Linked DNA regions of Homo sapiens. The protein of the gene in region 1 interacts with the protein of each later gene in a pairwise test. Each region holds a gene or a part of one and is shown in the gene's direction. Other genes may lie near its edges. The genes, in order: PROSER3 and ZNF396.

The links.
Region 2: the proteins of PROSER3 (region 1) and ZNF396 interact in binary tests that used the Homo sapiens proteins (3 or more experiments, as listed by UniProt).

Annotation. Positions count from the first base shown.
Region 1 is NC_000019.10:35,757,630-35,768,175, forward strand, and holds the start of PROSER3 (proline and serine-rich protein 3), read left to right. Parts: upstream 1-546; 5' UTR 547-586; coding exon 587-597; intron 598-1,696; exon of another isoform or gene 1,697-1,744; coding exon 1,745-1,841; intron 1,842-2,159; coding exon 2,160-2,362; intron 2,363-4,389; coding exon 4,390-4,517; intron 4,518-4,623; coding exon 4,624-4,727; intron 4,728-7,224; coding exon 7,225-7,307; intron 7,308-7,404; coding exon 7,405-7,547; coding exon of another isoform or gene 7,548-7,558; exon of another isoform or gene 7,559-8,634; intron 8,635-9,138; coding exon 9,139-9,326; coding exon of another isoform or gene 9,327-9,380; intron 9,381-9,421; coding exon of another isoform or gene 9,422-9,442; coding exon 9,443-10,436; intron 10,437-10,525; coding exon 10,526-10,546.
Region 2 is NC_000018.10:35,364,861-35,375,406, reverse strand, and holds the end of ZNF396 (zinc finger protein 396), read left to right. Parts: intron 1-1,042; 5' UTR 1,043-1,114; coding exon 1,115-1,531; intron 1,532-1,806; coding exon 1,807-1,951; coding exon of another isoform or gene 1,952-2,022; exon of another isoform or gene 2,023-2,113; intron 2,114-5,746; coding exon 5,747-6,192; 3' UTR 6,193-6,961; coding exon of another isoform or gene 6,962-7,056; 3' UTR 7,057-8,713; downstream 8,714-10,546. UniProt on the Homo sapiens protein: Isoform 1 and isoform 2 act as DNA-dependent transcriptional repressors.

The DNA of each region.
Region 1 (10,546 bases):
TTGATCCCGCTACCTCGGCCAGGAGCCCAGACCTGGCAACTGATGCAACCAGCTGCTCCTGCAGCAAGAAAGAAGTTAGATGACCGTTGGGACGGACTGATTGGCCCAACTGATGGAGGAATAGCGGTTAGAGAGAGGGCAGAGCGCGCCCCCCCCCCAACCCGCCCCACTGCCCCTGCAACAGAAAGAATGGTAGTTAGACCGGGGTCGGGACAGGACTTCTGCAGCAAGAAGGCGCTTAAAAAGCGGGACTTTTAAGCGAGGGTACTTTAGATCACCTCCTAACCGCAAGCCCAGCCTCAGATCCTTCCCATTGGTGCACGGTCTTGCCAATTACTGCTACACTCGGCAGGTTCTCCAATCAAACACGCCCTGTCGGGCAGGCAGTCGTCCCAGCCAATCCTGAAACACCTCCCTCCGGGTACTTCTGTTTCCTCTCTTTCATTGGTCGCCTTGGAGGCCGCTCGCCTCCGGCGCGGGCACAGAGAGGGGCGGGGCTGATAGGGCGTTGCTAAGCGACGGAGATGCGCGCGGGGCCTGTTGGGTGAAGGAGCAGAGCGGCCGGAAGCGCGGAGGGAGCCGCGGGATGGACCGCAGGTGAGGCCGATCGCTCTTCCAGGGACTACAGGAGGCTGGGGAGGACCAACGGCGAGAGCAGCACAGCCTAGGACGGGCTGGATACGGTCTGGAGTCGCTAGGGCTCCACCGCACTGGAACTACAATTCCCAACATGCTCCACAGCCGTTGGCCTCTCCAGCCGTAGCCGTTAGCATCCCGGGGGTCCCCTAAGAGTCTTATGTTCCTCTCTGAGTGGGCCCCAAGGAATTATTGCCTCTAAAGGTGTCCAAGAAAGGCTTGAGATCTGAATTTCTTCATTTTGAAATGGCCCCCAGACACGCCTGGGCGTTGTCTTTGAACTTTCTCGCGGAGGCGGAGCCCAGTGGATCCTGGGGCTTGTAGTCCATCTACCCTTTGCCTTCGTGTCCCCCAGGAATGTATGGGAAATGCTCGGTGATATAATCCAGCCGCGGTTCTTTCTTTCTTTCTTTTTTTTTAAGACAGAGTCTCTCGCTCTGTTGGCCCAGACTGGAGTGCAGTGGCACAATCTTGGCTACTGCAACCTCTGCCCCCGGGTTAAAGCAATTCTCATGCCTCAGCCTCCCAGGTAGCTGGGACTACAGGCACCTGCCACCGCGCCTGGCTAATTTTTTATATTTTTAGTAGAGACGGGGTTTCGCCATGTTAGTAAGGCTGGTCTCGAACACCTGACCTCAAGTGATCCACCCGCCTCGGTGTAATCCCAAAGTGCTGGGATTACAGGCGTGAGCCACCACGCCCGGCGAGCCGCGATTCTTAACCTGAACTCCACTTCGCAATCACCTGGGACGCTGCGGAAAAGACACGGAGGCCCAGCCCCACTAATAGATATTCTGATTCTGTTGGTCTGGAATGGGAACCGCGCGCCTGTAACGTTGAAAAGCCCCTCCTAGACTGGATCCAGGGTTGAGAACCACCGGCTGTCAGTTCCTGAGTTGCTCCCTGTTAAGACTGCTCCAGGGGCGGGCTCCCAGGACTCACCCTTCCACTGTCGATATCCTGAATGTGCAACGGTGCTTCATGGAAATGACAGTCCGTCTCCTCCAGGAATCTATGGGAATTGTCTGGTTCTGCCCTCCTCTAATGTCCCCCTCCCCAGGGCTGCGGCGAAACCACGTGCTGCCTGAACCCCACTTTCCTCTTGCAGCCTGCCAGTTTTCTCCATTCAAGATAGTCCCTTTGGAGATGCGCCCCTGGGTCGAAGCCACTACTGGCCATCCCAGAGCCAGACCTGGTGTCCCAAGGTGAGGACACCCCTCAAAGAGTGCTGAGTGCCAGCCCAGTAGCAAGAGAATGACCTTTAGAGGGTAGGAAGACATGTGATGAGAGATAGGGATGAGAGATTTAAGAGACAGCCCCTTGTCCCCTCCCCACGGCCCTGCCCTTGTCCCCCTCTCTACCACCTGGATTCCCCATCTGAGCCCCCATCACACTAGGTTGTTATCATTACAGGATGTGTTTCCTCCCCTCTGGACTGAGACTTTGTGTGTGTCCTGGTTCCCCTGCAGGGATGACCCATGAGACCTCACACTTTTTCTTCTTGTGCTCTTCCCTGATCTTAGACCCTGAGCCCATCCAGGTCTCAGAGATCCAGGCTCCCACAAGCTCCCAAGGCTCTAGCCACAGGTCCCAACTCCCCTGAGCTGTTTGAGGAGTCCTGGCCATCCAGTTCAGGGACCCCCTCCCTGCCCAGCACCACTGAGGGACAGATGTGGGCCTCCCCAGCACCCACCCTGATTGACAGCGGGGACTCCGTGGTGGCCAAGTAAGTACCAGCAGCCCTGGGGGAAAAAGAGGCTTTGGGTTAGAGGGAGGGAGAAGGCATGCAGTAATAATCATCATGGCCAGAGCTGTTTCTGCAGCACTCTTTTAGGACCAGGCAGTTTATGTGTGTTAAGAACTCTGGTGCTAGACTGCCTGAGTTCAAATCCCAGCTCTGTCATTTAACTCTCTGTATGATCTTGGCCTCAGTTTCTTTATCTCTTTTTATTTATTTATTTATTTGTTTAGAGACAGGGTCTCGCTCTGTTACTCAGGCTGGAGGTCAGTGGTACAATCACAGCTCACTATAACCTCAAACTCCTGGGCTCAAGCCGTCCTCCCACCTCAGCCTCCTGAGTTGCTGGGATTACGATGCATGCCACCACACCCAGCAAACCTCCCACCTTGGCCTCCAAAAAGTGCTGTGATTACAGGCCAGACGTACCATGCCCAGCCTCAGTTTATTTATCTCTAAATTGGGTGTTTTGTTTTGTTTTGTTTTTGTTTTTGTTTTTTTGATGGAGTTTCACTCTTGTTGCCCAAGTTGGAATGCAGTGGCATGATCTCGGCTTACTGCAACCTCTCCCTTCTGGGTTCAAGTGATTCTCCTGCCTCAGCCTCCCAAGTAGCTGGGATTACAGGTGCCCACCACCACACCTGGTTAATTTTGTGTATTTTTAGTAGAGATGGGGTTTCACCATGTTGGCCAGGCTGGTCTCAAACTCCTGACCTCAGGTGATCCACCTGCCTCAGCCTCCCAAAGTTCTGGGATTACAGGTGTGAGCCACTGCCAGGCCTAAATTGGGCATATTAATAGTACACATCCCCTAGGGCTGTTTTGAGCTTTCAGTGAGTTACTATATATAATGATCTCTAGCAGTGCTTCTCACATAGTCACCACTTAGATTTGTAGAATACAGGTTCAGCTGCTGTAACAAAGAGTCCCAAATTAATTATGGCTGAAACAAGATAGAATTTATTCCTCCCTCACCTGCAGTCCAGGCAGAAGCCACCAGGGATGATGTGGCAACCCGTAGTTGAGGTGTCAGGGACACAGGTTACTTCTGTCTTGTTGCTGTCCGAACTCTAGGCCGTTGCCCTTTCCTTCATGGTGCAAAATGGCTTTCAACCACATCAGCTTTCCAAAATCACATTTCATACCCTGTTTGTCAAGAACTTAGTCACGTGGTCACAAGGCTACAAGGGTACCTGGTAAATATAGTCCATAGGAGACTGGCTGTGTGCCCAGCTAAAAGTTACATTCCTGGCTGGGCACAGTGACTCATTCCTGTAATCCCAGCACTTTGGGAAGCCAAAGTGGCAGGATCCCTTAAGCCCAGGAGTTCCTGACCAGCCTGGGCAACATGGCAAGACCCCGTTTCTACTAAAAATACAAAAATTGGCAGGGCTGCAGTGGCTCACGCCTGTAATTCCAGCACTTTGGGAGGCCAAAGTGGGTGGATCACCTGAGATCAGGAGTTTGAGACCAGCCTGACCAACATGGTGAAACTCCGTCTCTACCAAATTAGCCGGGCGTGGTGGTGCATGCCTGTAATCCCAGTGACTTGGGAGGCTGAGGCAGAAGAATCACTTGAACCAGGAGGCAGAGGTTGCAGTGAGCCAAGATCACGCCATTGCACTCTAACCTGGGCAACAAGAGCAAAACTCCGTCTCAAAAAATAAACTAATTAATTACAAATAAATAAATAAATAAAAATACAAAAAGTAGCCGAGTGTGGTGGCATGCACCTGTGTCCCAGCTACCCAGGAGGCTGAGGAGAGAGGATTTCTTGAGCCCAGGAGTTGGGGGCTGCAGTGAGCTATGATTGCACCACTGCCCTCCAGCCTGGGTGACAGAGCGAGACCCTGTCTCAAAAACAGTTATGTGACTATATAAGAAAGAAAAGCAGATATTGAGGGATAGCTACCAGGCTCTGCCATGGTGCTTGGTAAACGTTGGCTGCTATAATTATTCTTATTATTATTTGGCTCTCCTCACTCCACTCACCTCCTATCCCCTGATGTTCACAGGTATATAAACAGGTTCCGCCAGGCTCAGCCCACCAGTCGAGAGGAGCGCCAGCCTGCAGGCCCAACCCCAGCTGACTTTTGGTGGCTGCAGTCTGACTCTCCAGACCCCAGCAGTCAAAGTGCAGCAGGTACCTCTTTCAGTGCCATCCACTACTCCCACCCCTAAACCTTTGCTGATCAATGCCCCCAGCAGCCACTCCTCCTGGCCCTCATACCTCAACTGGGGCTTCTCAGCAGGAGCCAACAAACCAGAAGGAAGACCCCATACAGCTGTCCCTACTGCGGTCAACGTGACCAGTGCATCCCATGCTGTGGCTCCCCTTCAGGAAATAAAGCAGGTGACATCCCCATTCACTCCCTCCCTTGGGTGCCTGAACTGACAACACCAGCCCTAGGACAGAATTAGAAGATCAGGAGCAGTGGCTCACACCTGTAATCCCAGCACTTTGGGAGGCCAAGGTGAGAGGACTGCTTGAGGCCAGGAGTTCAAGACCAGCTTGGGTGACATGGTGAGATTCTGCCTCTACTAAAAAAAAAAAAAAAAAGAGAGAGAGAGAGAGAACCAGGTGTGGTGGTATGTACCTGTAATCCCAGCTACTTGAGAGCCTGAGGCTGGAGGATGGCTTGAGCCTAGGAGTTCAAGGCTGCTGTGAGCTATGATCATGCCACTGCACTCCAGCCTGGGCAGTAGAGCAAGACCCTGTCTCTATTTAAAAAAAAAAAAAAAAAAAAAGCCTGGGCACCGTGGCTCATGCCTATAATCCCAGCACTTTGGTAGGCTGAGGCAGGCAGATCACGAGGTCAGGAGTTCAGGACCAGCCTGACCAACATGGTGAAACCCCGTCTCTACTAAAAATACAAAAATTAGCCGGGCGTGGTGGTACACACCTGTAATCCCAGCTACTCAGGAGCCTGAGGCAGGAGAATTGCTTGAACCCGGGAGACGGAGGTTGCAGTGAGCCAAGATAGCGCCAGCGCACTCCAGCCTGGCGACAGCAAGACTCCATCTCAAAAAAAAAAAAAAAAGAATTAGAGCTGATCCCCATTTCAAGGAAGCTAAAACAGAAAAGGAGGATTTGCTGGCTAATGTAATTGAGAAATCCAAAAGTAGATGTTTCCAGATATGCCTGGATCCAGGTGTTTGAATAATGTTGGGAGAGACCCAACTCTCTCTGGGCTCCATGCCCCCCCTTTTTTTTTTGATACAGAGTCTTGCTCTGTCACCCAGGCTGGGGTACAGTGGCGCCATCTCAGCTCACTGCAACCTCCGCCTCTCGGGGTCAAGCAATTCTTCTGCCTCAGCCTCCTGAGTAGCTGGGACTACAGGTGCATGCCACCACACCCAGCTAATTTTTTTGTATTTTTTTAGTAGAGATGGGATTTCACCGTGTTGCCCAGGCTTGTCTCGAACTCCTGACCTCCGGCAATCCGCCCACCTCAGCCTCCCAAAGTGCTAGGATTATAGGCGTGAACCACCAAGCCCGGCCTTTTTTTTTTTTTTTTGAGACGGAGTCTTGTGCTGTCATCCAGGCTGGAGTGCAGTGGCGCGATCTCGGCTCACTGCAAACCCCGCCTCCCAGGTTCACGCCATTCTCCTGCCTCAGCCTCCCGAGTAGCTGGGACTACAGGTGCCTGCCACCACGCCCGGCTAATTTTTTTTTGTATTTTTAGTAGAGATGGGGTTTCACCATGTTAGCCAGGATGGTCTCCATCTCCTGACCTTGTGATCCACCCACCTCGGCCTCCCAAAGTGCTAGGATTACAGGCATGAGCCACCGCGCCCGGCCTTCTTTTTTTTTTTTTTTAATTAGATAGGGTCTTACTCTTAGGCTGGAGTGCAGTGGCACAATCATGGCTCACTGCAGCCTTGAACTCTTTGCAACCTTCGCCTCCTGAGTACCTGGGACTACAGCATGCGCCACCATGCCCAGCTAATTTTTTGGTTTTTTTGTAGAGATGGGATCTTACTTTGTTGTCGAGGCTGGTCTCGAAGTCCTGGGCTCAAGCAATCTTCCTGCCTCGGCCTCCTAAAGTGCTGGGATTGCAGGCGTGAGCCACCACGCCCGCCTCTGTGCTTCTCTTTTTTTGGGCTCAGTCCCAGGCGGGCTTTCCCCTCACAATAGCCAGGATGGTCCTTGGGGTCTCTAGGCTCCCATGGTCCTGGCTCAGTGACTCCAGTGGGAAGTGGGGGCTTTTCGAATTGCTCCATCAGAAGCCCCAGGGCTCACTGTGATTCACTCATCCTTGAGCCAACCACTGTGAACCAGAGGATAGAATGCTCTGATGAAGCAGCTCTGATCTGGGAGGTGGGATCCATCCTCCTCCAACCATGATTTGTCCATGAAAGGTGCTAATCCACCGGGCGCGGTGGCTCACGCCTGTAATCCCAGCACTTTAGGAGACTGAGGTGGGCGGATCACCTGAGGTCGCGAGTTTGAGACCAGCCTGACCAACATGGAGAAGCCCTGTCTCTACTAAAAATACAAAATTAGCCGAGCGTGGTGGCGCATGCCTGTAATCCCAGGTACTTGGGAGGCTGAGGCAGGAGAATTGCTTGAACCCAGGAGATGGAGGTTGCTGTGAGCCGAGATCGTGCCATTGCACTCCAGCCTGGGCAACAAGTGAAATTCAATCTCAAAAAAAAAAAGAAAAAAAAAAAGGTGCTAATCCAAAGGGGAAAACTGGGTCTCTCCTCCCTGAGGAGGAGGAGCAGATCCTAAGCTGGCATGTGAGGTTACCAAGGGCAGTACAACCTGCATTCCAGGCCCTCTGTTTAGAACCCCCTTCCCAGCAGCCTTTGGGTTGGGGCTGGCGTCTGACCCTGTCACCCTGCAGAACCTCCACACATGGAACTCATCCCTGCTGGACCTGGAGACGCTGAGCCTACAGAGCAGAGCTGCCAGGCTGCTCAAACGCAGGTGCCCGCACCCCTGCCCCCATCACCCTTCCTACTGCGGCTCCACGTGGCCCAGGTCTCGAGACCTCCATTGCCTCACTCCTGCCTTCTCCCTGCAGCAAAGCCTCCATCTCCTCCTCCTCCTCCCTCAGCCCCAGCGATGCCAGCACTTCCTCATTCCCCACCAGCTCTGATGGCCTCTCTCCCTTCTCGGAGACCTTCATCCCTGACTCCAGCAAGGGCCTTGGCCCCAGGGCACCCGGTAAGGGCTGAGAGGCAAAGACTGAGGGCAGCCTGGGTGCAAATCCCAACTCTGCCACTGACCAGCTATGGGACTTTGGGCCTCTCTGGGCCTTGTTTCTCCAGCTGTAAAACAGGGATAAGGCCAGATGAGGTGGGTCAGGCATGGAGGCCGAGGCGGGCAGATTGCCTGAGCTCAGGAGTTTGAGACCAGCCTGGCCAATGTGGCGAAACCCGGTATCTACTAAAAATACAAAAATTAGCCACGCGTGGTACATAATGGTGCATAGTGGTGCATGCCTGTAGTCTTAGCTACTCAGTAGGCTGAGGCAGGAGAATCACTTGAACCTGGGAGGCGGAGGTTGCAGTGAGCCGAGATTGCGCCATTGCACTCCAGCTTGGGCGACAGAGAGAGACTCCATCTCAAAAATAAATAAATAAATGGTGCCATCATAGTCCAATTGCTGGGCTCAAGCAATCCTATAACCTCAGCCTCCTGAGTAGCTGGGACTACAGGCATGCACCACTATGCCCAGCTAATTGTTTTTATTTTTTTATTTGTTGAGATGAGGGTCTCACTATGTTGCTCAGGCTGATCTCAAACTCCTGGGCTCAAGCGATCCCCCCACCGCCTTCGCTTCCCAAAGCACTAGGGTTATAAGAATGGGCCATTCGTTATGCCCAGCTGGTTGTTGCAGTTTTGAATAGGGAAGCCAGGGAAGGTGACCAAGATCTGATGGATGTGAGAGAATGCACCGTGCGATACATGAAGGAAGAGCATTCCAGGCAGAGGGAACGACAGGTGTAAAAGGCAAAGCCTTCGCCTTTTACCGGGAGAGAGGTGCAGCCAAGGGAGGGTTCTTAAGTACGAGAGGCCTGGTCTGACTCAGGTATTCACAGGCTCCCTCTGGCTGAGAGTAGGGAACAGATTTGGAGGAGAGTAGAGAGACCAGGGAGGCTATTTAAGAGTCCAGGTTGGGTGAGTGGGGCTGGAGCAGGGTGAGGGCTGTAGCGGGTGGGGGAGTGGGTAGATTCTGGGGAATATGTCTTCTGGTCACTGCTGTAACTCCAGTGTCCAGAACGGCTCAATAAATATTTGTTGAATGAAACCAGGCACTGTGACTCACGCCTATAATCCCAGCACTTTGGGAGGCCCAGGTGGGATGATGATGGCTTGAGCCCAGGAGTTTGAGACCAGCTTGGGCAACAAAGCAAGACCCTGTCTCTACAAAAAAATAAAAATTACCCCCGTGTGGTGGCACACGCCTTTTGTCCCAGCTACTCAGGAGGTTAAGGCAGGAGGATCGCCTGAGCCCAGGAGGTCGAGACTGCAGTGATCGCACCACTGCCCTCCAGCCTGGGTGACAGAACAAGACTATATATATATAATGAACAAAGACTTGAATGATGACAGATGGAGAAGACCAGGAGTGCTCGCTCCCCTGACTTTGACCCCTTCCCCTCTTCCCACCCCAGAGAGGAGCTGGGACAGTATCTGGAGAGCCTGTCTGAGTAACCCCCTGCACAGTTGGAGGGCGTGTGTGCAGGCTGTCCTGGGGTTGCTGATCTCCCTGGCCCCTGCCTCACCCTCTCCTCTCTACCTCCCCCTACAGCATCCCCGGCACCAGCCCAGGCCCAGACCCCCACCCCTGCTCCAGCCCCAGCCTCCTCCCAAGCACCCCTTCGGCCAGAGGATGACATTCTGTACCAGTGGCGGCAGCGGCGGAAGCTTGAACAGGCTCAGGGAAGCAAGGGTGACAGAGCTTGGGTGCCGCCTCTGACCCCTGCCCTCCGCACGTTGGTGAGCCGAGGGAGGGAGGAGCCTGGGGGGAGCTGGAGGAGGGGCTGGGTCTGAGGGGGACTGAGGACCCTCCACCCTCTCTCTCTCTGTCTCAGATCTCTCTTATCTGTCTACAGACCTCTCCTGCTCCAGTGGAGACCCTCAGTTCTCTGGGGACCCAGCCTAACCATGTCCCACTGTGGAGCAGTGTGGCCCAGCCTGGTCCACCAGAGGCCTTCTATGTGGAGAGGCCTCCTTTTCCCTCAGTGTCCTCTCCACACATCTTTTGGGCCCCCAGCTCCCACGGGTTCTTCTGGGCCCCACAGTCTGGGCCTTGGGTATCCCTTGGGGCTGTTCCTCCCACGCAGCAGGCCTCCACCCTAGCACATCTGGGCTCTACCCTCGCGCCCCCGGCTTCCCTGGCCTCCACCCTCGAACCCCCGGCCTCCACCCCAGCTCCCCTGGCCTCCACCCTTGCACCCCCAGCCTCCACCCCGGCTCCCCTGGCCTGTACCCCTGCACCTCCAGCCTCCACCCTCGCATCCCCAGCTGTCCCCCAGGGCCTGCCCATCCCTGACCCAAGCAGCTGTGCCCAGCCTAAGAGCCTGGGGCCCAAGTCTCGGAGGAGCAGAGCCCCTCGCCCAGAGGCTGCCGAGCAAGTCCCTGCAGCTGGCCAGGGACCTGGCCCTCAGCTCAGGGGTGTCCTGGGCCAGGTAGTGGCAGCTCGGCTGTTCCCTGACAGCCTGGAGGACACGCCTCCTCACTTCGAGGGCCCCCCTCCACCCAAGGCTGGATCTCCGAAAGTCCAGGCCACACAACCCCAAACCAAGGTCACTCCCCCTCCATCTGAATCCCAGTGTCGGGCCAAGGCCGAGTCTCTGAAAGCCAAGGCCTTGCCGCCCGCAGCGGGGTCAGTGATACGGAAGAGCGAAGCCACTCCTTCCCCTGGAGCCTGCCTGCAGCCCGAGGTCCCACTCTCTCCAGCTGAGCAGGCAACCACAGTCAAGGCCTCGCCGCCAGCCTTCCAGGTGGGGTCTCCGGAGGCCCTGGCCCCGCCCCCGCCCGCTGCTGACCACGCCCCCTCGGAGGCCCTGCTTGCCCAGGCCGCCCTGCTGCTGCAGGCTGCAGAAGGTGATGCCCGCGCCCTCCTGGATGTTGGAGGCAGGCCAGCCCCCTAAGAGGCCGGCCCCTTGGAGCTCATTCTTTTCTCCCCGGCCCAGACTCCGACGGCAGCGAGTTCC
Region 2 (10,546 bases), on another chromosome or scaffold:
CAACCTAAGTATTTTAAAATAGTTAAGTAAGTAATATGGATATGGAAAAAAATAGAAATACATTCAGATGAAGGAACGTGATTGCCTTTTTTGTTGTTTTTTCTTTTTTTTTTTTTTTTGGTGGGGTAGAGATGGGGTCCCATTATGTTGCACAGGCTGGTCCCAAACTCCTGGGCTCAGGTGATCCTCCCATCTCCCACCTCGGCTTCCCAAAGTGCTGGGATTTCAGGCATAAGCACAGTGCCCAGCTGATTGGTTTATTTTTTTTTTAATGGTTCCTTTAATGTCGAAGTAATGTTTTAACAGTAAAAGCTGAAAAAAGTCACACAAAAGTGCTTCCCTCATGAGACTATTTCTTTGAGCTCTTTGCAGCACACTAAATACCGATTGGCTCTTTGAACTGGCTCCAGAGTTAGAGCATTTCTCAGGCTTCCCTTATTTCCATTATCTGGGAGCTTCTATGCAATCCTGGCTGATCTCTTATTGTAATATTCAGTAGCCTTGTGGGCATGGTTTTCAGAATGAATTGTGAATCACTTATGCATATGAATTAATGAGTCTTAGCTGTTTGGTTCTCTTAAAGAAGTATTCTTCAAAAGCATGGTTTCTGGGCCTGGCGTGGTGGCTCAAGCCTGTAATCCCAGCACCTCAGGAGGCCAAGGCGGGTGGATCACCTGAGGTCAGGAGTTCGAGACTAGCCTGGCCAACGTGGTGAAACCCTGTCTCTACTGAAAATACAAAAATTAGCCAGGCGTGGTGGCGGGTACCTGTAGTCCCAGCTACTTAGGACGCTGAAGCATGAGAATCACTTGAACCCAGGAGGCAGAGGTTGCAGTGAGCCGAGATCACACCATTGCACTCCAGCCTGGGCAACAGAGCAAGACTCCATCTCAAAAATAAATAAATAAATAAAAGCATGGTTTCTGTTAAGACTAAGGTCAGTAGTTCCTATACAGTCTTATGTTTCTAATCTTAGTTGTTTTGTTCTAAGAAGCATTTGTCTTTTGTCTTCTTTCCACTTGTTTCTTTAATCATATTTAAGGAGTGTCCATCAGGACAGCTTCACCTCCTTGAGGATTAAAGCCTAACAGTACTGAGCTATTTGTCTGTCAAAATGTCTGCAAAATTGGGAAAGTCATCATCACTCCTAACACAAACTTCAGAGGAGTGTAATGGGATTCTGACAGAGAAGATGGAAGAGGAAGAGCAGACCTGTGATCCAGACTCTAGCCTCCACTGGAGCAGCAGCTACAGCCCAGAGACCTTCCGCCAGCAATTCAGGCAGTTTGGCTACCAGGATTCACCTGGGCCCCATGAGGCTCTGAGCCGGCTCTGGGAACTTTGTCATCTCTGGCTGAGGCCGGAAGTGCACACCAAGGAGCAGATCCTGGAGCTGCTGGTGCTGGAGCAGTTCCTGGCCATCCTCCCAAAAGAGCTTCAGGCCTGGGTGCAGAAGCATCATCCAGAGAATGGAGAGGAAACTGTGACTATGCTGGAGGATGTGGAGAGAGAGCTTGATGGACCAAAGCAGGTAAGAAGGATGCCTGTGGAGATGAACCCCCAGGCTGAGTCAAGAGCACTGGCACATCATTGGGAGTAGAGCTCTCAAACTGTATTCCCACTCAGCACAACTGGATGTATAGGGGTGAAAGTACTAATGGGTGTCCCAGCAAATAGAAGGTGGCTCTACTTTTTCCCTCCCTTTTCCTGTGTCCATGATACTTTTTGCATAGTTTCTTCTCTGTTATTTTATCCTCAAGTCCCAACCTGATGGTGTTCTTCAGCCTCAATTATTCCTGTTTTTAGATCTTTTTTGGACGAAGGAAGGACATGATTGCAGAGAAGCTAGCACCTTCAGAAATCACTGAGGAATTGCCAAGTAGCCAGCTCATGCCCGTGAAGAAGCAGCTCCAGGGAGCATCATGGGAGCTTCAGTCCTTAAGACCACATGGTGAGGGGGCAGGATTCAGTTCATGTTGGAAGGTGTGGGGGCCCTCTGCTCACCACACACATCTCAGCTGATTTATGCAAGAGGCCTCAAATCTCCCCCTCTCATCTCCTCCTTACTGTGGGAACTTCTGTTATTTGTCCTACTAAATGAAGATCTTCAGTATTTTGTTCTTGCTTCTTTTTCAGAGATTCTTATAAAATCTTCAGACTTTAAATCCCTGACATCTGCATCAGGGTTTTCATGCCTTTTTAAAGTAGCCCTTTTATCTTCAGGCAGCCCTTGAGGCCTTTCTGTGGGACCCCAAGGTACACAGCCCAGAGACCACTGATCCTCATCATCATTTCCTATATAACTGCTCAGTTACTGGTGGGATCTCGTAGCAGAATCGCCTATATTGCTGCTAAGGTGACTTTGCTCTCATACGTGCTTTGAATACACTTCTCTACTCCCTCACATCTTCAACTGGCCTCAACTGCTCTTTGCATTGCTTTCTATAAGTGCTCCAGAATAGCTGTGTAGCAATCTATTCTTCCATTGCAGATACTAAACAAATAAGTGCTATGGGGAAAAAATAAAAACAAAACAGAATAAGGGGGCTAGAGGGAAGGTGAGAAGTAGAAATAAGGCTGAGTTAGAGGCCTTGTAGGCTGTGACTGCTCCTGCTTCAGACAGAGTAGCTGTGTTTTCGTCTGTTTTATATATTGGAACTCAATGTAAAATTTCATTTGATAAAAGGGCCATGCTACTTTAAACAGAATGGTGGGGATAGGATCTTATTATATAGAGTGGTAGAAAGGCCTCTCTGATGAAGCGACATTTGAGCAGAGACCCTCCTTCTAGATGATCATCCTGGATAAAATAGGAGCCAGAGATTAAGAGGGAAATCCTACTTGGGAGCATCTCCTTCCTTCTCTCCAGCACTGCTTCCATAGTTCAGGAGTGGCTGATAGCTAAGCAAGGTTAGAGTTTTTCCAAGGGAATTTTTATAAGAAACTACACAAAGGAAATACAGTAATTTAGAAAGAGATTTAGAAAACATTGTTCACCCTAACTTGGCAAGTACTGGCTCTCTGAAGGCTTATACTGGGACACGTAATACCTCCAGTCTAGAAATTGTCTTGGTATACTTAGAAAAGTGAAAGTCTTTTCACGAAAAAGTATTTTCCGTCAGGAAAGGGAGGGAGACCATCCCAGCCTCAGCAGCTTGGTGTGGTGGTGACTACAGAAGTGATCAACCTCAAAGCCAGGTGTGGCAAGAACCACATCCTACCTGTGAATGTCCTCATGGAGGCCTTTCCTACATTTTTTTTTAAGATTCGTAGAAATTTGAAACAGAATGCAACAGGTCCAGGATCTTGCAGTACAAGGCAGAGAGAACCAGAATCACTTGATAGAATAATAGAACCATTTCTTAAGGCCACAACATGATTTCTGTGGTACTGAGTCATGTCTTATGAAAGCTTCTGGGAGATGATCTTGGTCTCAGTACTGTAAAGTACTAATTGATGCCAGGATTTTGATAGTAATGACTAATCATTGAGGTCACTTTGGAATATAAACTATCAAAAATGAATTTGAGACAGAATCCTTACCATTTATAAAATGATTTCCACTTAAACTAGTAATAATAAATGAGTATGCCATATGCTATGGTTTGAATATTTGTCTCCTCCAAAACTTGTGTTGAAACTTAATCCCAAGTGTGGCAGTATTGAGAAGTGAGGCCTTTGAGAGGTAATTGAATTATCACCCCTGCCCTCATAAATGGATTAACTCATTCATGGATTAATGGGTTAATTGGTGATCATAGGAGAACTGGTAACTTTATAAGAAGAGGAAGAAAGGGCTGAGTTAGCATATTAGCATGCTCAGCCCCCTCACCATGAAATGCCCTCCACTGCCTCAGGACTCTTCAGAGGGTCTCCACCAGCAAGAAGGCTCTCACCAGATGCACCCCTCCACCCTGGACTTCTCAACCTCCATAACTATAAGAAATAAATTCTTTTTATAAATAAATTACTCAAGTTCAGGTATTCTATTCTAAACAACAGAAAATGGACTGAGACACCATATTTGTGAATAAATACAATAAATAATTTTAAATTCCTTTTGTAATAACTATTTAGACCCATTTGATTTGATTTTTATATATTTTTTCAAGTTAGGTTTATTTAGTTTGCTGCAGCAAGAAAGAGAACACGGCACAGAAACTATGGGGTGTGTCATTAAGAAGGAATTGGGAAGGGCTTATGTTAAGATTTGAGCTTATGTTGGGTGATTCTAAGGAGATTGTAGAGACAGCAGGTAGATCCATTTTAAGTAAATTCTAAAGAGTAAAACAACAACTCAGTTTTCTTATTCAGTATCACATTGCATCACTAATTCTTCTCCCCAGACTACCTTTCTCACCCTAACCTTTTCATTAGGCCTTGAGAGGGCCCAGGGAATCACTTATCATCAGTACCTCTCTGGGTTGCTTTTAATCTTATTTATATAATTACTTCAGATAAAGGCACCCCCAGTAGTCACAGTCAGCCCCAGCCAAGTCATCTCCCCAGACATGTCCAAAACTGTTGTACTTTGCTTTTATAAACTCATTTTAAGCTCCTGTCTTTCAGCAGCTTCAGTTAAAATGCCACCATGGGCCGGGCGCGGTGGCTCACGCCTGTAATCCCAGCACTTTGGGAGGCCGAGGCGGGCGGATCACGAGGTCAGGAGATCGAGACCATCCCGGCTAAAACGGTGAAACCCCGTCTCTACTAAAAAATACAAAAAATTAGCCGGGCGTAGTGGCGGGCGCCTGTAGTCCCAGCTACTTGGGAGACTGAGGCAGGAGAATGGCGTGAACCCGGGAGGCGGAGCTTGCAGTGAGCCGAGATCCCGCCACTGCACTCCAGCCTGGGCGACAGAGCGAGACTCCGTCTCAAAAAAAAAAAAAAAAAAAAAAAAAATGCCACCATGAGGATAACTGAAGTGATTTCTTCAGGTAATGCAACCACATTACACTGGCATTTTCACATCTGAGTTAGCAGTTCTGCTGGAGCTTTAGGCACCCTGAGTCATAAGGCCCTCTGCATCAAGCCAGGTTTGTGTGCCGCCTGAGTGGCCGCAGCCCATAAGCAGCCATGTACGTTTTTCATGGATGTTAAATGTAATACAAAATAATACAACAAACAGCGATTCAACCAGTAATATAAAATCCATACAGGAGTAGAGGTTTTTCATCAGTGGGTACTCTGCTACCCTTGATCTTTTGAGGTACTAGTTATCCTAGTCTATAATCTTCCCTTTATTGGCCTAACTTATATTTTCTTACTTTATTTTCCACATTCCTTTTTGGCCCCTTGGCTTTCTTCAGCTCATTTCTTTGCATAGTTACTGATTCCTTTATGAATATTAAGCTTTATTTATTTATTGATACTCCAGTACTAAATCTTGTTTGTTACTCCCACTGGCACATTGGATTCCTCTCCTTCTAGCTCTCTGTGTCTCCAATCATTTCTTCTTTCTAAGCCCTTTCTTTCCTTCCAGACTTTCCTTAGTCTCTGACATATCTTTTTATCCTTATTCCCTATTCTGTCTTTTCCATAGAACTTTGCAACTTTACAGTTTAGTTGACTGCCTCCTCAGTATGTAAACCTTTCTCTATGTCTTATATAAACTTCTCAATATTTTGTCTTACACTCTCCGTCCTTCACATTGTGTGTTGTTTTATAAACATGCTAGCAATAATCATGTATATTTCATTTGGATCATCCTTTCTCTTTCCTGGTGACATTTGTTTTTCCATTTCAGATGAAGACATCAAAACTACAAATGTGAAATCTGCTTCAAGGCAAAAGACTTCTTTAGGCATAGAACTGCATTGCAATGTTTCCAATATCCTTCATATGAATGGCTCCCAGAGTTCCACATATAGAGGAACCTATGAACAAGATGGTAGGTTTGAAAAGAGACAAGGAAACCCTTCTTGGAAAAAACAACAGAAATGTGATGAATGTGGCAAAATCTTTAGTCAGAGCTCAGCCCTTATTTTACATCAGAGAATCCACAGTGGAAAGAAACCTTATGCATGTGACGAGTGTGCAAAGGCATTCAGCCGAAGCGCAATTCTGATTCAGCATCGACGAACCCATACTGGTGAGAAGCCCTACAAGTGTCATGACTGTGGCAAAGCCTTTAGTCAGAGCTCAAATCTTTTTAGACATAGGAAAAGACACATTAGAAAAAAAGTCCCATAAGTATCATGAGGGAATCAAAGCATTTACTCAGAGCTATTTCAGCACAAGGGAAGACACCAGATGCAAACGCTCCTTAGTACAAATCAGTGGTCTTAGTAAGCACCAGTCTCCTTTCAAGACTCATGAAAGCCACAGGAGAGAAGGTTGAAGATCTCAGGTCAGCATTATTTGCTTTTCTGCTTATCAATGCAGTCTCAATTCTGACGTTTGCAATTCCAAAGCTTAATTCAGATTTCCATCCCTATGCAGGCCTTGAAAAGGCATTCTCAGACATGTTCTACTATTTTCATTATTAACACATATAATGAATTAGTATATATCTTTTTAGACAAGTATGTTTTTTCCCTCATTGAGAAGGAATGTGTGAGTTACTCAGTGTAAAAATAGACATTCTCCTCCATTTCATAACTTGAGCACTAGAATTCTAAAGACCAAAAATTAAAGCACTCAAAAAGAATTCCTGGCTGGGTGCGGTTGGCTCATGCCTGTAATCCTAGCACTTTGGGAGGCCGAGGCAGGCAGATTGCCTGAACTCAGGAGTTCAAGACCAGCCTGGACAACACGGCGAAACCCCGTCTCTACTAAAATTCAAAAAATTAGCCAGGCATGGCAACGTGTACCTGTAATCCCAGCTACTAGGGAGGCTGAGGCAGGAAAATTGCTTGAACCGCTCAGACAGAGCAAGACTCCGTCTTTAAAATAAATAAATAAATAAATAAATAAATAAATAAAAATAAAAATAAATTCCTATTTTGTCTTCTGTTACTAGATTCAAAATATGAACATGCGATTGCAGAGGCCCAAAAGAATATGTACTTCAAGACTAGGCTGAAGTGCCCCAGGTCACTTTCAGGAGGCAGATAAATAAAGGCCTTATCTTATGAAAGCACACAAGAGCCTCCATACTATTAATATCAAGTTAATTTCCCGTGTTGGAAAAAAATAATCTCCTTTGCAATGTAATTTGGAAATAAGTCAATGGAAACATGAAAATGACTGCTTGTCTACAAGGAGTCAGCTAAACATAAGGAATGTTTTCATAACAATATTAATCTATGGGTGCTTCTGTAAGATGGATGATCATCTTAATATAAAGAAAAAAGGGAGATGAACAAAATTGTCAAACAAGACTGATGTACCACAAGTGTTGTCAAGTACAGTGTGTGTCGGAGAGATGTACCACAGCTTAACTGGAAGAGGAAGCCCGTAACTGCTGATGACAATACTTTCAGTGTCCCCTTTTCTGGCATAAATCAACTATGAATATGTTTCAAGCATCACAAGACAACCTTTTCAGAGTCTTCTGTATTCTTAGTAAGATGAGTTTCTAGACACGCTGTCATGAAATGAGACCCTGGATTTTGATGCTCTTGTACATATGGACAAATCACTGAAGTTCAATTTAAAGGGTCCACTGCAGTCCCTTATAAACAATTGTTGAACCTAACCATTATAGTTTATAAGTTTTAAGACATTTATGGGATATCTTATTTGGCTTATCTATGGGATATGAGTAACTATGTTTTACCTGCATTTAATTCAGCCAGATTCCCTGTTTAAAATTACTGAATCGTACATTATTAAAATTATTCTGACAGTATACAAACAACAAAATTATCTATTTTCCAGAGATTCTTGATAAAACTCTGTAATGTTACTACAATAATACATGTATTGTGTTTTCCATGGTGCTACAGTTACACAATATGGAGGCAAACATCAGAAATCAAAGTCCTTGGAATAAGGGAAGAGACTCATAGTAAACTTCTTTGTCTGGTTGGGTTCCTCATAAAGTATAAAACATTTCATTCTCAGAAAATCCAACCATATCTTAGAGTATCTCCAGAAACTGGCTTAGAGGAGCTCCAAATATGTGGAATTACCACACTCTGCTTAGTTAGTATGCTGATAAATGTAAGATTAGTAGGAGGAGAAGTGAATGTAAATTTTATTATAGAATTTTCTGATAGTGATTATGATTTGTAGCTCTAGTGAATATGAATTTTATATTGAGTTGTGTGTATCTTGAGTCACTAAAAATGTAGGATACTTTTTATTTGGGGCTCATTGTCTTTGTAATTACGGAGAGGAACAAACCATCTATTGAAACAACAAGTGCCTCAGAGATGTATATATTGTGAATTACTGCTTAATTACGGAAAGAGTTTCTTAGGTTCTATGTGAATAAGATGGCAGAATCTAAATCAAGTATTTTGAAGGAAGCACCCATCTTCACTTGGTGCTGCCATCAACTTTGTAAGATTGCATTCTATTTATTGTGAATAATTTGAGTGTTTCCACAGGAAAGTGGTATGAATCATATCGTCTAAGTATATGATGAATCTTTAAAGGGTGTCTCTGTGTACTTTGAATTATTTTGCAGTTATGTAGGTATCCTAATGAGTGAATGGTACTAGTTTATATAAAAGGAGAATTCATTGAGCTAACCTTGGTTTTAAAAATTAGCATTAGCACCCCCATTATATTAATTTTCAGGGATAGTAAATACTCCAAAATGAAATTGGTATTGTTTTCTGGCTTTCACTTCATCTGGGCCTTCAAGATTACCAATAATCCTATATGGTTTGTTTGTTTTTGTTTGTTTTTGTTTACCACTCCCATTCTCTTCAGAGACCAAGTCAAATGTTCATCACTGTCCTTACAACAGTGGCTTAAAACAGCAAGCCTTTGTGTTAGGAATGCTTCTGGATGCAAAATCCATCTTTGGTGGTTTAAACAAATAGGAATTTTCAACCTGAAATCTGGAAGGTGGGTTGCTGGCTCTCAATCTGCAGCTGGAATGACGACTGGTCTAACTTTACCTCATGCTATTTTGTCCGATTTTCGAGAGAGCTGTCACAGCTCTAGGAACTAGGATTAAGTCAGGAAGAAAGGAGAAAGACAGCCATGCTAAGCAAAAAGCTTTCCAAAAACCTTAGCAAAATCTGGCTTATGTTTCCCTGTTGCAACTGTGTCTGGTAGGGCAAGCGTTTTCAACCTCTAGAGGGAAAGCAGGCCAGATGGGGGTTGAGGACGACATTGGGTTAGCCAACCGTGTTTGCCATACTAATCCTTTGCCACCTTCCTCCTTACGGGCAGACAACTATCTTTTGCTTCCTGCATTAAAGGAAAAAAAGATAAGAACTCTTACAAGTTCCTATGACTAAATTTGCCAAATTATTTACACTTTACCCATCATTTCCTCTCCCTCTTCTGAGAATGAGAGAGGGGCCTCTCCCCCGTCTGAGAATGAGAGAGGGGTCTCTCCCCTCTGAGCCTCAGCATTCTCACCTCTGAAAGGCCTTGGCTGCCAGTCATTCTTCCTCTCTTCTATTTCTTCACTCTCTGCCTTCCTTCTGCATCCATCCCTTCAACACTTAAATATGCTGTTGTGACCCTGCCTCCTACCCTATATTTTTCCAGCTTACACTGGCAAAATTCAAGATGGTGGCTAGTCCCTGAGTGAGGGGAATTATGTGGCCCTTAACTTTCCCCTCTTCATATGCATTCATCTCTCAACCAGAGTAATCTTGCTAAGGCATACATTTTATCATGCCCTTTCCCTGTCTAAGACATAGGCTTTCCCTTGTTTTAGGATAAAGTCAGAACTGCTAAACAAGATTGTTAAGGCTCTTTGTGATCTGACCACAGCTTACCACTTCAGCTTCAGCTCTTGCCATTGCCTCTATGCTTCAGCCATTTTGAAATATCAGAAGTCCTCTAGCCTTTGGACCTTTCCATGTACTCCTTTTGAACTCCTATCTAGCTTTCACATGTTACCTAATTCCTGTGTGTTCTTCATGTTTTAGTTTAGGTACCACTTCTTCCCTAACACCCAAAGAGTAGGTTGGAGAGCACCACCACACTCTTATGTTAATTGCATATCAGTCTGTTCTTATCCTTACCATTACATTTATCTCATGAAATAAAATATTTTTAAAGTATTAAATTACAAGTATGGCTGCAAGGAAGAGGAGAATAAATGACACCTTGGGATGGAAAAAGTTATGGAGTAGCAAAAAGAAAAATTTTTAAGGCTCTCCTAGTCCTGGGAAGAGTGAGTCAATGAGAGGGTCAGGCACAGGGTGTCCTTTCACCTCTGTTGCCCAACCCTGCAGAATTTTGGAGGGGGTTAGGGGAGAATCAAGGGGAGAAGGCTGTGCCCCCTTGCCATTGAGTGCATTGGGAGGAAAATTGTTGAACAGACTGCTAGTGCTCCAACACTGAACTCTCATAAAAACAGCCATTCAGTGTTAGGTAAATGGCTTCTATCAGCTAGTATGTGGCTTGAAAGAGATACGGCAGTTCTCTGTGCCCAGTGGGAACCTTGGAAAATAGCTGACTATAGAGCTGG